Homo sapiens: one gene and its partner. The protein of the gene in region 1 purifies or fractionates together with the protein of each later gene. This does not show direct contact. Each region holds a gene or a part of one and is shown in the gene's direction. Other genes may lie near its edges.

Evidence for each region.
Region 2: the proteins of SNX11 (region 1) and RMC1 purify together in Homo sapiens (affinity purification with mass spectrometry, with the first as the bait; one large-scale study listed by BioGRID). This does not show direct contact.

The regions. Positions count from the first base shown.
Region 1 is NC_000017.11:48,106,477-48,110,565, forward strand, and holds the start of SNX11 (sorting nexin-11), read left to right. Parts: upstream 1-1,289; 5' UTR 1,290-1,362; intron 1,363-4,089. UniProt on the Homo sapiens protein: Phosphoinositide-binding protein involved in protein sorting and membrane trafficking in endosomes. Regulates the levels of TRPV3 by promoting its trafficking from the cell membrane to lysosome for degradation.
Region 2 is NC_000018.10:23,527,243-23,530,164, forward strand, and holds part of RMC1 (regulator of MON1-CCZ1 complex), read left to right. Parts: intron 1-552; coding exon 553-659; intron 660-964; exon of another isoform or gene 965-1,936; coding exon 1,937-2,056; exon of another isoform or gene 2,057-2,095; coding exon of another isoform or gene 2,096-2,112; exon of another isoform or gene 2,113-2,392; coding exon 2,393-2,470; coding exon of another isoform or gene 2,471-2,485; intron 2,486-2,785; coding exon 2,786-2,890; intron 2,891-2,922. UniProt on the Homo sapiens protein: Component of the CCZ1-MON1 RAB7A guanine exchange factor (GEF). Acts as a positive regulator of CCZ1-MON1A/B function necessary for endosomal/autophagic flux and efficient RAB7A localization.

The DNA.
Region 1 (4,089 bases):
ACCCAGCTATCTTCCTTTTTATTTATTTATTTTTTACAATGGAGTCTCCCAGGCTGGAGTGTAATGGCGCGATCTTGTCTCACTGCAACCTCCGATTCCTGGGTTCAAGCAATCCCCCTGTGTCAGTCTCCTGAATAGCTGGGATTACAGGTGCCCATGACCACGCCCAGCTAATTTTTGTAGTTTTAGTGGAGACGGGGTTTCACCATGTTGGCCAGGCTGGTCTCGAACTCCTGACCTCAGGTAATCCACCCGCCTCCGCCTCCCAAAGTGGTGGAAGTACAGGCGTGAGGCACTGTGCCCGGCCCCTTTCTTTTCTTTCCTCTCTTTTCTTCCTTTTAGCTCTCTCTCTTTTTTTCAGACAGGGTCTTGCTCTGCAGTGATCAGGGCTCACTGCAGCCTCGAACCCCTGGGTTCAAGCCATCCTCCTGTCTCAGCCTCCCGAGTAGCTGGGACTACAGGCGCGTGTCACCATGCCCGGCTAATTTTTAAAATATTTTGCAGAGGCGAGGGTCTCCCTAAGTTGGTAGGGCGTGTCTCAAGCCTGGCCTCAAGCGATCCTCCCGCCTCGGCCTCCCTAATAGTATTGGGATTACAGGCGTGAGCCACCGCGCTAGGCTTGCTGAAATTATCTTTAAATAAGTTGTTAAAAGACCACCAACACATTGAACGGCTTTCTCTTGCTCCCTAGCTGCATGATATTGCTTCGAGTTTGTTTCGGTGTGAGCAATCTGAGTCGCCGGACCCTCTCGAGTCTGACTTTCACTCTGACAATCGGTCCGTGGCTTTACGAATCTGAATCGGAGTCCCCTTGATAGCTCCGCTGGGGAACAGCAAACTACGAGGTTCAAATGGTGGCTCTCGGGACTTAGTGAGGATCCAGGGATGTGGGCTTCCTAAAGCCCCGAACCTCCCACACTGCAGACTATCCCTCGCATAGCGAGAACAAGAGTAACAACCCCCTTACACCCCTCTGCTCCCGGGACCCACTGGCTGCCCGTCGCTGACGCCCCCTGGCCGCTGATTGGCTTCCCCTGACAGTGGGCGGAACGCGGCCCCGGATTGGATATCCATTCGCCGTCCCTCACCCGGCACCTGCGTGCACTCTCCGGCGTCCCAAGTGAGTGGAGGGGGGATCCCGACTCCAGTCCGGGGCCTTGGCCAGCGGAGCCGCGCTATTCGGAAGCGGGAATCCCACTCAGAGCCCGGGCCTGTAGGGGCGGGGCGTCCCGGGCACCCGGGATTGGGGCGTCTCCCGTCGTGCACCGGGGCACCGGCGACTCACCCGGAAGGAGAAGCCGTGATCTGGCTATATGGTGGGGCGCGGGCGGTGTCGCTGTGGGGAGCTGGTGCTGTTCTCAGGTGAGAGGGCGTGGGCGGGGCCTGGGGAGTGGGTGCTGCTCTCCTGTGAGGGGGCGTGGGCTTGAGCGTCAGTAGTGGCACTCGGGATGGTGGCATCGCTTTACATCCTAGGGAGGGACTCTCTTACCACCCGGGATTAAGGCAAGGGCTTGCTCGGGATCCAAGAAAGGAAACCCGGCTTTTCAGTTTACCTTCAAAGTGTATCTTTCACTTCCTACCCCCCAAGCTTAATCGGAAAGAAAGAAGGACCATGTGGACCTTTCGGTCCTAGTTTGTTGAGAATGGAGAAAGAGTGGCCGTAGTAAAAGACTCTGGGGACATTTACTTAAATGGCTAAGACTGGGGGCAATGGCGAGTATTTTACGTGGACACGGGAGACTTGGCGGTAGATTGTGGTCGCCTTTGTTACTTACCTTCCAAGTGAAAGGCGTACGATTAGAGATGGACAAAAAGATGGAGCATAACTGCTTGGTTGAGATCACACAGAGCTTGGTCAGAACTGGGAGCTTCCTCTGTTTAGTACCTGTGATATTTATAATTGGAGCGAGAGCTTTTTGAATTGCTTTCTGCCATCTGGCACTAAAGGCTCAAGATTGAGTAAGAAGGGACGGTAGTCTCAGTAGTTCCATCTACTTTTATCACCTGATTTGTTTCTTAACCTGTCTCTTGAAGTTGTTTAAATGGGAGAGAAAATAAATGGTGAGACTAAAGCCTTGCATTGTTACTATATTAGAAAGCTTTACGATGAATCTACTTTGTAAACAGCAAACAATCGGGTACTCACCAGAGCTACTGGTGCTGGTACAGGTGAAGAAAGTAAAGGAAACTTCAGATGTGGTTGAAAGGGCCCAGAAAATGTAGTTAACACTAAGTTATGTAACTAGCTATGGTCACTGACTCTAGCCTTATTTGGATGAAGTACAGATCCATCTCCCAGATCAGAGAACTAAAGTTAGGAACTTCCTGCTGCTTCTCCAGAGGCAGAACTGAGCTTTTTCTTTTGAGGAGTGGTATCTGTGGGGAGGAATCTAATGGAGAAGAGTGGTTGCTAGAAATTACTACTTGGTGTCTAGGTTTTTGTATTTGTTCCAGTGTTTATTTGTTTGTTTTTTGAGACAGGGTCTTGCTCTGTCGCCCAGGCTGGAGTGCAGTGGTGTGATCTTGGCTCATTGCAGACTCCGCCTCCTGGGTTCCAGCAATTCTCATGCCTCAGTCTCCCGAGTAGCTGGGAGTACAGGCCTGTGCCACCATGCCCAGCTAATTTTTGTATTTTTAGTAGAGACGAAGTTTTGCCTTGTTGGCCAGGCTGTTCTTGAACTCCTGGCCTCAAGTGTTCTGCCCGCCTCAGCTTCCCAAAGTGTTGGATTACAGGCGTGAGCCACTGGGCCAGCCCAGTGTTTTTAAGGACAGTTACAACTGAAACTTTCTTTTTTTTTTTTTGAGACGGAGTCTCACTCTGTTGCCAGGATGGAGTGCAGTGGTGCGATCTCGGCTCACTGCAACCTCCACCTCCTGGGTTCAACTGATTCTCCTGCCTCAGTCTCCCGAGTAGCTGGGACTACAGGCACGCGCCACCATGCCCAGCTAATTTTTGTATTTTTAGTAAAGAAGGGGTTTCACCATGTTGGCCAGGATGGTCTCAATCTCTTGACCTCGTATTTCGCCCGCCTCGGCCTCCCAAAGTGCTGGGATTACAGACGTGAGCCACCGCACCCGGCCCATCTGGAGGTTTTTTGTTTTTTGTGTTTTTTTTTTTGACAACGGAGTCTTGCACTGTCGCCTGGGCTGGAGTGCAGTGGCGCGATCTCGGCTCACTGCAACCTCCGCCTCCCGGGTTCAAGTGATTCTCCTGCTTCAGTCTCCCAAGTAGGTGGGATTACAGGCGCCTGCCACCACGCCCGCTAATTTTTTTTATTTTTAGTAGAGACGGAGTTTCATTACGTTGGCCAGGCTGGTGTCTGGAGGTTTTTAAAAAGCCAGTTCATAGCTATTTGTTTCTGAGTGGTATTGGCCCCAAAGGAAAGAAGAATTTCTTCATGAAGGTAGTGCAGGGCCCTATACAAACTTCCTGAGACCAAGGGTATGATGATCATTTCGTTCCTAAATTATGGTCCTGAATTTGACAAACCTTTTTCAAGGCACAAAAGATGTATGAGCTCCACTGAGTGGATGACTGTGATTTCCTTGTCATCGTCTTTCCCGTTGTTAGTTTTGTTTAAAGACACTTCAGAATATTTAACTCTCTGCTCCTGTGCTGGCAGTTTATCCAATGCCTGCAAAGAGAAGAGAAAAAAAAAACTTAAGGAGGTTCATTGTTCACAGCAAATAGGTCTGCTCTTTTTGGTCTCAGACATTTGACTGATATCTGGAATGTTATATATGGGTTGTTATGGAATTGGAATTTCCCACCTTTCAGTTCAGGACCCCTTGGAGGTGGTGGCTGCATCAGATAAAAATCAGATTGTCAGCAAGAATACCATTTAAGATGGTACTGAAATCACAAAACCTTAGGTTTGCTCAATATTGTGTAGCCCAATTTTGTCATGGACCATGCAGCTTCGTTTCTGCATGCAGTGTTTGTCTGTGGAGATACTTCTGGTATATTGGAGAGAATTGAAAAAGTGGTTTGCTTTGCTAATTTCATGGTGTAAATGAGTTCCCCTTCTTTTGAAATGTTAGCCTTGTGTTAGCAAAACATAAAATAGAAGGAAACTCATTACACAGTGT
Region 2 (2,922 bases), on another chromosome or scaffold:
AAAAAAATTAGCTGAGTTTGGTGGTATACACCTGTGGCCCCAGCTACTCCAGAGGCTGCCGAGGGAGGATTCCTTGAGCCCGGGAGGACGAGGCTGCAGCGAGCCGTTTGTGTCAGTGTACCTCCAGCCTGGGCGACAGAGCAAGACCCTGTATCCAAAAAAAAATAATAATAATAATCCCCTACCAATATGTGCTGTTGGTGTTTGTTTTTGTTTTGGTATAGATGGGGTCTTGCCTTGTTGCCCAGGCTGGTCTCAAACTCCCAGCGTTAAGTGATCCTTCTGCCTCGGCCTACCCAAAGTGCTGGGATTATAGGCATGTGCCACTGAGCCTGGCCTGCTATAGCTTTTTTTTTTTTTTTTTTTTTTAACCGTAACCAGAAAGGGGTTGCGAATGACATCTAGCTGTCAGGTCTTTAAAGTAGAGTGTCCTTTAAAGGTACTTTTGCATTGGTAACCTTTTGAGATTAGTTTTTATCATAGCAACGTGTGGAAATTCTGAAGCTGACATGAAGTTGGTTTGATCCGTGTGTGAACATTGTGCCTTTCCAGTGTTAAGTGAGTCAGACAGAGCATCGCTGCCCGTGATAGCCACTGTTTTTGATAAACTCAACCATGAGTATAAAAAGTACCTGGATGCCGAGCAGAGTTATGCGATGGTGAGTTACATGGAGTATGACAAAGGGTCCTCCTCCCCCACCCCCTCCCGGGTATTTTCTAAGTAATTATGATGCAAAATTGTTTCCTATATATTAGAATAAGGTCGCTGAGATTTGCCGCCTGCCATAGGGCAAGGTGGCAGTAGTGGGGGATAGTGGAGGAGTAGTAAATTCAGGGTCCCTGCATCCCACGAGCTGGCGGCTGCATCTCACTTCATACCTTCACTGTTTTTGTTTTTCCCATCTGTGTTTGATCTTGCCTGTAGATCCTTGGTCTACTGTTATAGATGAGAAAAATCAGTCTCTGCTTTGCAATATTTTGTATATTTTTCTGTTATGCCAGAGTGAGGACTTAGAAAATTAAATTAGAAATATTTATATTTGCCACACCTTTCTTCCCTTTTGGGAAAGAATCCTGTTGAGATAGTGACGATTCAGTGTTAGCACTTAGCAGGCGTGTTTGTAGTCAAGGTAATAACCATGGCTTATCGCCACCAATTCCCGCTGTATTACTTGTACATCATATCTTCTGAAGCCAGAAGAAAAGTTTAGGACAAGGAGAATGAATTATTTCAATTCCAGGATCTGATTAGTCCTAGGCTGAAAATGGTTTTAAACCAACAAAAGCCCCAGAACTCCACTCCCCTTTAGCTGTTCATGGAAGGGTAAGAGGTCTGAGACAGGCACTGAAGAGGGCCAGTTGCTGGGACAGTGTCCATTCCTACGCTGCCAGACGTGAGGGATGGCTGAGTCCTTTTGGACTCTATTGCTGTGGGTGTTCTGGGCTGTGGGAATCAGTAGGTCTGATCCCAAATGGCAGTTTCTGTGCCGTCCCACACGGTCTGCTGGGCTCCATAAACCGTCATGACTCAGCAGTGTGGGCCACTGACCAGCCACATGAGCAGCATCTGGAGTTTCTTGGAAATGCAAGTTCTCAGGCTACACCCCACAGCTATTGCATAATCTGCACGGATCTGAACTGCTTTTTTTTTTTTGAGACGGAGTTTTGTTCTTATTGCCCAGGCTGGAGTGCAATGGTGAGATCTTGGCTCACCGCAACCTCTGCCTCCTGGGTTCAAGGGATTCTCCTGCCTCAGCCTCCTGAGTAGCTGGGATTACAGGCATGCGCACAGGAAAAAGTTGTATCTAAGTAGAGAAAGTGTTTTCCGCTCATATCCTGGGTCCACATCGAAGAATTCAGTCCTTGTGGATGAACTGTAAACAGCACCCTTCCTCTAAGATGCCGAAGATCATAGTTTGTGGTTTTTTTCTTTCAGGCGGTGGAAGCAGGGCAGAGCCGAAGCAGCCCGCTCCTCAAGAGGCCGGTGCGGACCCAGGCGGTGCTGGACCAGTCAGATGTGTACACCCATGTCCTGTCAGCCTTTGTGGAAAAGAAGGTGGGCTGCAGCTTTCCGCCTCTTCTGGACTGAGAATGCTCAAAACAAGGAAGTTGCTGAAAACGAGGAGACTTCATGTGATTAGAGTCACTTGAAGTGATTAGAATCACTGGAGTTTCCTTGGGTGAGGCCCTAGAGCTGGTAGTTTGGCTTCTAATGCTGAGGCCTAAAGCATAATTGTTGACGGGTGGTTCTGGAGCGATGTGTGCAAAACCAGTGAAAGATGAACACTGGGCCATTTTAAGATGGAAACAAGGTGGGGGTTGGATAGAGAGTTATATGCAGCCTCTTTTGCACCTCGTTGGTATTTGTAAGACCACATTTTTTTCTCCCTAGGAGATGCCTCATAAATTTGTGATAGCCGTGCTGATGGAATACATTCGTTCTCTTAACCAGTTTCAGATTGCAGTACAGGTACCTTCAAATCATCTGGGCCCAAGTTAAAACAGAAGGAATTTAAAAAAAAAACACAGTCACTGTCTTAGAAGATGACTCATATGCTAAGACAGGTCTGCCTCCCTGACTCAGAATGCTGAGTGACTCCTGACATTATTAGTTGGAATGGGAAGTGTAAGGTCAAGTTGGGGTCTTTACCTGCATGACGAAACCACTTCTTGTAATGACAGACTTTTACTGTGTTGGTTAGAATAGCCAGTCCTTGGGGAGCCTCTAGTCTGTTGTAGCTGAATGATTTGGAAGTGTTCTTTCACTTTTTACTTTTGTCCTCAGCATTACCTACATGAACTTGTTATCAAAACCCTTGTCCAGCACAACCTCTTTTATATGCTGCATCAGTTCCTGCAGTACCACGTCCTCAGCGACTCCAAACCTTTGGTATGCATTGCCAGATTTTTACTTCCATTGTG